Linked DNA regions of Homo sapiens. The protein of the gene in region 1 purifies or fractionates together with the protein of each later gene. This does not show direct contact. Each region holds a gene or a part of one and is shown in the gene's direction. Other genes may lie near its edges. The genes, in order: EEF1AKMT1 and EGLN1.

The links.
Region 2: the proteins of EEF1AKMT1 (region 1) and EGLN1 purify together in Homo sapiens (affinity purification with mass spectrometry; 2 studies listed by BioGRID and IntAct, with this or other methods). This does not show direct contact.

Annotation. Positions count from the first base shown.
Region 1 is NC_000013.11:20,760,299-20,764,128, reverse strand, and holds part of EEF1AKMT1 (EEF1A lysine methyltransferase 1), read left to right. Parts: intron 1-3,830. UniProt on the Homo sapiens protein: Protein N-lysine methyltransferase that selectively catalyzes the trimethylation of EEF1A at 'Lys-79'.
Region 2 is NC_000001.11:231,370,079-231,373,908, reverse strand, and holds part of EGLN1 (egl nine homolog 1), read left to right. Parts: intron 1-3,210; coding exon 3,211-3,347; intron 3,348-3,830. UniProt on the Homo sapiens protein: Cellular oxygen sensor that catalyzes, under normoxic conditions, the post-translational formation of 4-hydroxyproline in hypoxia-inducible factor (HIF) alpha proteins.

The DNA of each region.
Region 1 (3,830 bases):
CAAAGCAAGTAGAAGGAAGGAAATGAAAGGCAGAAATCAATGAAATTGAAAATAAAGTCAATGATGCAAAAACTTATTTTTTAAAAGAGATCAATAAAATTGATGAACCTTTAGTAAGAAAAAAGAGAAAACAGAAATTACTGACATTAGGAATGAAATGGGGGATATCAGTACAGATCCTAAAGACATTAGAAATAATTGAGGACTGCTATAAACATCTCTATCCAGATAAATTTTAACAACTTAGATGAAGCAGACCAATTCGTTGAAACTACAAACTACGAGAACTCACCCCATATGAAACTGATAATGTGAATAGCCGTGTAAGTATTAAATTGAATTTGCAGTTAAAGGCCTCTCATACAAGAAATTTTCAGGCCAGGCATGGTGGCTCATGCCTGTAATCTCAGCAGTTTGGGAGACCTAGGCGGGCAGATCACCAGAGGTCAGGAGTTTGAGACTGGCCTGGCCAACATGGTGAAACTCCATCTCTACTAAAAATGCAAAAATTAGCCAGGGTGGGTGGTAGGCACCTGTAATCCCAGCTATTTGGGAGGCTGAGGCTGGAAAATCGCTTGAACCCAGGAGGCGGAGGTTGCCGTGAGCTGAGATCGAGCCATTGCACTCCAGCCTGGGCGACAATAGCAAAATTCTGTTTCAAAAAAAAAAAACAAAAATTTCGGGCCTTAAATGCTAGGGATGCTATAACAAAATACCGTAGACTGGGTGGCTAAAAGTAATGGCAGAAACAGCAATTACCTTTGCACCAACCTAGCATCTCCAGATATAATTACAATGAGGGTTAAGGCTTTAACATATAAATGGGGTGCAGGGTGGGAGGGGGGTGGTGTGTCAATTGAATCCATAGCACATGATTTCACTGAAAAAAATTACCAAATGTTTATTGCGTTAGCACTGATTGTACACAGTCTTTTCCAGAAAATAGAAGAGGAGACATTTCTAGTTTATTTGATGAGACCAATATTACCTTGTTACCAAAACCAAAGACAATACAAAGACCGAAAACAATAGACAAATATACCTCATGAAGATAGGTGACGAAATCCTCAGCAAAATATTAGTAAATATGATTTAGCAATACATAAGAAGAATCAGTTAAGTGGAACCTATTCCAGGAATGTGAGACTGGTTTAATAGATAATCAGTTTAATTTATATCATGAGGTTAAAGAAAAATCACATGATCGTATAAGTTGATATCAAAAAGTTATTTGAAAATTCAACACCCATTCATGATGAAACTTGGCAAACTACTAATAAAGGGAATGTCCTCATCTTAACATAGAACATCTACACCCTGGGTGTAGTGACTCACACCTGTAATCCCAGCACTTTCGGAGGCTGAGGCAGGAGGAACACTTGAGCTCAGGAGTTTGAGACCAGCCTGGGCACCAGAGTGGGACCCCATCTCTACAAAAAATAAAAATGTTAGCCGGGCATGGTGGCGCATGCCTGTAGTCCCAGCTGCTTGGGAGGCTGAGGTGGAAAGATCACTTGAGCCCAGAAGGTTGTGGCTGCATCATATTTAATGGTGAAAGATTGAATGCTTTCCCACTTAAAATCTGGGACAAGTGTAGGATATCTGCTCTTATCACTCCTATTCAGCTCACTAGAAGTCCTGGCCAGGCACGATGGTTCATGCCTGTAATCCCAGCACTTTGGGAGGCCGAGGTGGGCGGATCACTTGAGGTTAGGAGTTCGAAACTAGCCTGGCCAACATGTGAAACCCCATCTCTACTAAAAATGCAAAAAAATTTAGCTGGGCGTGGTGGCAGGTGCCTGTAATCCCAGCTACTGGGGATGCTGCTGAAGCAGGGAGAATCGCTTGAACCCAGGAGGTGGAGGTTGCAGTGAGCCAAGAATGCACCACTGCACTCCAGCCTGGGCAACAGAGCAAGACTCTGCCTCAAATTAAAAAAAAAAAAAAAAAAAAGACTGATGAAATACATCAAAGATGAACTAAATAAATGGAGAGATGTGCCATGTTTTATGGATTGGAAGACCCCGAAAAATAAAGGTTCTCGTTCTGTTACCCAGGCTGAAATACAGTGGTATGATCTTGGCTCACTGCATCCTATGCCTCCAGACTCAAGTGATCCTCCCACCACAGCCTCCCATGTAGCTGGGTCTACAGGCACATGCCATCACACTCAGCTAATTTTTAAAAACATTTTTGTAGAGACAAGGTCTCACTGTATTGCCCAGGCTGCTCCTAGGCTCAAGTGATCCTCCTGTCTCAGCCTCCCACATTCCACCTGAATTATACACTTTAAATAGATGAATTGTATGGTATATGAATTAGATCTCAATACAAATGTTTTAAAATTTGCACATTTCACTTCAATAGGCATTTCAAAAACAACTACATGACTGCAAAGAGAATCCTGACTTCTCTGGCCACAGTAAACCTCATAGTACAGGGATTCAGTTCTTCATTTGATGAAACCCTCTTATAATGTATCATCATGAAATAAATTTTTTGATGTCCTCAAAATAAACACACTCTAACCATAAAATCCAACATCATACTCTTGAGCATTTATCCAGAGAAATGAAAATGAAAATTCCTATACATTTTACAGGAATGTTCACAACAGCTCTATTTGTAATACCTTAAAATTGGAAACAACCCAAATGTTTTAGTGGGTGAATGGTTAAGTGTGGCCATACTATGGATTACTACTCAGCAATAAAAAGGAATAAACTATTGATACACAGAACAACCTGGGTAAATTTTAAACCATGCTGAGTGAAAATGACAATCTCAAGTTATATAATGTATGATTCCATTTATCTAAAGTGACAAAATTATTGAAACGGAGAACAAATGCTTTCCAGGGGTTAAGAATGGAGATTGAGGTGGGAGAGGATGGGAATGACTTTAAAAAGGTAGTACAACTCATCTCTTTGGTGCTGGAATATTCTGTCTCTTATCCATGGAAGTGTTTTCATGAATCTACACGTGATATCATTATATAAAACTATACACATGTGCATACGCCTGCAAATAAATGTGTGTAAAACTGGTGAACTGCACGAGCTCTGTGGATTGTACTGTTCATTTCCTGGTTTGACAATGCACTGTAGTTATATAAGTTACTACCATTGTGGAAAAATAGGTGGAAGGATACATGGGATGGACCTTCATTATTTTTGCACATTCCTGTGAATCTGTGATTATTTCAGAGTAGAAAGCTTAGGAATGAGAATTGGTGTAGAAAAATAGAAATATTTATGTCCAAATTATCAGATTCTTTTCCAAAAGATTATGCCAATTTAAATTGTTATCTAAATTAGAGAGTATACCAATATCACTACCTTCTCATCAGCATTAAGTGTGTCCATTATTTTGATGTTTTATCTGTGTATTCTTTTTAATTTTTTAGAGTATGTATATTTTTAAATTTTAAAACATATTTTATTTTTAATTTTAGATTCAGGGCATACATGTGCAGGGTATATTGGGTGATACTGGAGTTTGGGTTTCTAGTGAACCCATCACCCAATATTGAACATAATATCTGATAGGGTAGTTTTTTTCAATCCTTCCCCCACTCTTCCCGGCTCCTCTCTTGGAGTCCCTAGTATCTATTATTTCTGTCTTTATGTCCACCTGTACCCATTGTTTAGCTCCCGTCTACAAGTGAGAGCATGTGGTATTTGGTTTTCTGTTTCTCTTTTAATTCACGTAGGATAATAGCCTCTAGCTGCATCCATGTTGCTGCAAAGGACATGATTTCACTCTTTTTTATGGCTGTGTACTATTCCATGGTGTATATGTAGCACATTTTCTTTATCCAGCCCATCTTT
Region 2 (3,830 bases), on another chromosome or scaffold:
TTCTGATAAGACTGTCACAGACACAGTTAAAAATTTTCCTCTTAAATTTGTTTCAGTCTCAGGTATTAGGAGTGGATTTTTGTAAAATGAAACAAATACTACTCTATGTTATACAACATGATACCTGTAGTTAACAACGTAGTGTTGTGCACTTAAAAATTTAAGAGGGTAGACTCCATGTTCAGTGTTCTAAACACACACACATACACACACACACACACACACACACACGCACACACGAGGTTAGGGGAAGGGAAACGGAACTTTGAGAGGTGATGGATATGTTTATTACCTTGGTTGTGGTGTGTCATGAGGGTGTGCGTATATATCCAAACTCATCAAATTGTAAATGTTAAAGATATGCATTTTTGTATATCAGTTATACCTCAAAACCATATAAAAAAGTACTGATATATCTTAAAAAGTGGATTCATTTATTTTCAGATGTTAGAGCACTTATCTAAAATCTAACTTTTTTAGAAAGGTGACCTTTATTAAAATATTTTCCTTTTAATAGTTTTTAGAAAAACATTTCTGAGAACAGTTGTTTTATAATGGCTTTTGGGGGAGATTATCTATGGATAATTGTTAAGGATTATTTGCTATGTTATTCTTGGCATTTTTGTAAAAATATTATATGGCATTGAGTTGTTTAATTGAATATTGGAGGCAGGATTCAGTCTTTCCCTGATTATTAAAAAACTGGAAGTTTATCAGTACTGACAAGCCCTGTAAAACCAATTAGAATGTACAATATATTTAATCTCTCTTGTTTTAAATATATATTTCCTTAATATTAGCCTGAGTCTCATTAAATTTAAATGATTTTTAAAAAATATGTCATATATTACTACACTAGAGACTGTACAGACTAATTTTTTGGTTGATTTTTTAAAATCTTAAGTATAACATTCAAATAGAAAAGTGGCTTGTATAGTTCAGTGGATTTTCACAAAGTGAACATACCTGTGTAGCCAGGGTGCCTTTTTTTGTTGTTTTTAAGTCAAATAACCTTTAAAAAACCTCTTTCTCTGCATCCCCCAAAACACACAAATGGAAACTGCCTGAGTCTTAAATGTGCAAAAACCTAATCCTGCCCTAAAAAGTGTTTTAAGTTTAGAATATGCTCACAGTGCTTCACTAATCTTTCTAAAACACACTGATTTAAAGAGTTTTCTCTGCCCTAGTCCAGGTTCAAAATGGAGCTGACCTTTCTGCTGAGTATATATTGAGGCATGTCAACAAGCATGGTTTTTCTGTTACAGCTTTCAAAGTTTGAAGTAGAGAAATAAATTTTGTAATTGAATTTGAGCCCAAGGCACAAAACAGATGGGTGTAACTTTAGTTAAAATTTAAAAATTGACTTTTTTTCAGATTTTGTGAATAGCTAGAAAGCTAGAACTGTGTTTCATCAGCTTCTAACTTCTAGATTTTGTTAGGCTTTTTCTAGGCTGATCTTATAATTTCTATAATACTTAGTCAGGGTCATTAATGTGTAGGTTTTAAATTAGGACATAGGCAGAGAAACGTCCCTAGTGTTTTTGTGTGTAGAATAGAAATTTTCCATGCTAGATTGCACTGAATATGTAGTGTGTCAGTTGTTCTGGATGCTAGGGATGTAGCAGAAACGGAATTAGCCCTGGCAGAGCTTAGGATCTATTGGAGGATACAGATCAGAAAGATTGACAGTTACAGATAGTTATGCAAAGTGTCAAGACAGATTGCTATGGAGCACACAGGAGGGCCACCTAATTCAGAGGAGGAAGAGTGGAAGTGTCAAGTAGCCATTTCACTTAAAACATTTTCAGCAGGTCACCTGTGGTACTCCCAATGACTTGAGTCAAAGGGAAGGGAGCAGGAAAAAAGGAAAGAAGACATGTTCTCAGTTTGGAGGTTCTTTAGATGTTTGCATAGTAGCCTGGGGAATCACTCTGAACAACACTGGAACCTGAGGAAGGTTGGCAAGGGTATCAAAGTAGCTAGAATTTAACTTACCTGACAGTGAGCCTGATAAACCTTTTCTTTAACTATAGATTCTAGGTTTAGGCTCAAACGCCATGTTGTCCTGACCAGGTGTTAGAGTTTCTTTAAATTTTAAGAGTCTACCTGCTTAGGAGTGTAGTTATTCAAGAGTAAGGAGCTACTTGGTTGGTTGGGTTTTGCCTATCCCCAGATCGTAAACCCCGCAAGGACAAAGTCTGTCTGCATTATTCCCTACTCTGCACCCAGAGCCCACCACAGTTCCCAGTGCGATTTGATGCCTAGTTGGTGTTTAGGTAAATAATAATCCTTTATGGGTAGAATCAAGTTTCACAAGCAGGTAGTCATCTGTGCATCAGGCCCAGTCTGGAAAGGGAGAGCCACAGGTTCTAATGAACTATATGCTGATGGTGATGGTGACGACGACAATAATGATGGTCATAATAAATGATGACACTTTCTACTGATATACTGAATTATTTAAGTAAGAGGTATTTGTGACTATCCTATTGTTTATTGAATTTTAAAGTATGGTAAACTATTTGACATAATTTATTTCTAATAATAATTTTGTCAAAATTTCTTGAAATCTATCTATTTGAAGGGTGGGTTAAGCAAATCATTAACATACAAAAATAAACGTTTAGTAGTTTTAAAAGCTTTCAAGCATCATTTTAAGACTTTTAAATTCAGATAACATTCTTGTGTTTCATCAGATATTTATAAAAATCCCTAAAATGGCTGGGGACAGTGGCTCACACCTGTAATACCAGCACTTTGGGAGGCCGAGGTGGGCAGATCACCTGAGGTCAGGAGTTCGAGTCCAGCCTGGCCAACATGGTGAAAACCCATCTCTACTAAAAATGCAAAAATTAGCTGGACATGGTGGCGCATGCCTGTAATCCCAGCTACTCGCGATGCTGAGACAGGAGAATTGCTTGAACCTAGGAGGCGGAGGTTGCAGTGAGCTGAGATTGTGCCACTGCACTCCAGCCTGGGTGACAGCGAGACTCCATCTCAATAAATAAATAAATATCCCTAAAATAAGAACTAAATTTGTCCTTGCATCAGTGCATATACTTTTAAAATTGCAGCTCATCTTCATACTTTATTGAGACGTATTTGTGAATAATCCAATTAAGACATTGAAATTGTCTCTTTTTTTCCCCCTAAATTTAATCTTGTAGCATTTTTGGTTACTCCTGCTTACATATTTGGCTCTTTTCCTAGGTAAGTGGAGGTATACTTCGAATTTTTCCAGAAGGCAAAGCCCAGTTTGCTGACATTGAACCCAAATTTGATAGACTGCTGTTTTTCTGGTCTGACCGTCGCAACCCTCATGAAGTACAACCAGCATATGCTACAAGGTAGTATTCCTTTTCAGAAAAAATTGGTTTAGAGTATGGTAGGACAGGAGGGAATCTGTAGAGTAAACGTGAAAGCTTTCTAATGAGTATTTTCCTGCCAGGTACTTTTCACAGTCATTTTAATTTGAATAATTGTATAAGATTTATGTTGCACAGTCATCTGAATTCAAATAATTATATAAGACTCATTAACAGTTAGTACTAAATGTGTCTTTCTTTGCACAGCCACTCTGAAGAAAGGGAAGCACAGGCCTTCCCATCTTTCTAGCACTCTCTCCGTGCTTTGTGCATCTCTTAACTACTATCCATGCTTTGATTTTTGTAAGAGTATTTTACTTGGGAGAGAGAAAGATCAAGAAGGAAAAGGGTTTTTTAAAAGGTGGTGAGGGACAACATAGGAAAATGGATACAGAGTAGAAAAATCAGAGGTAACCAGAGAGTAGAAGTGAAGAGAAAAACAGAAGAAAGAAAAGTAGAGAACAG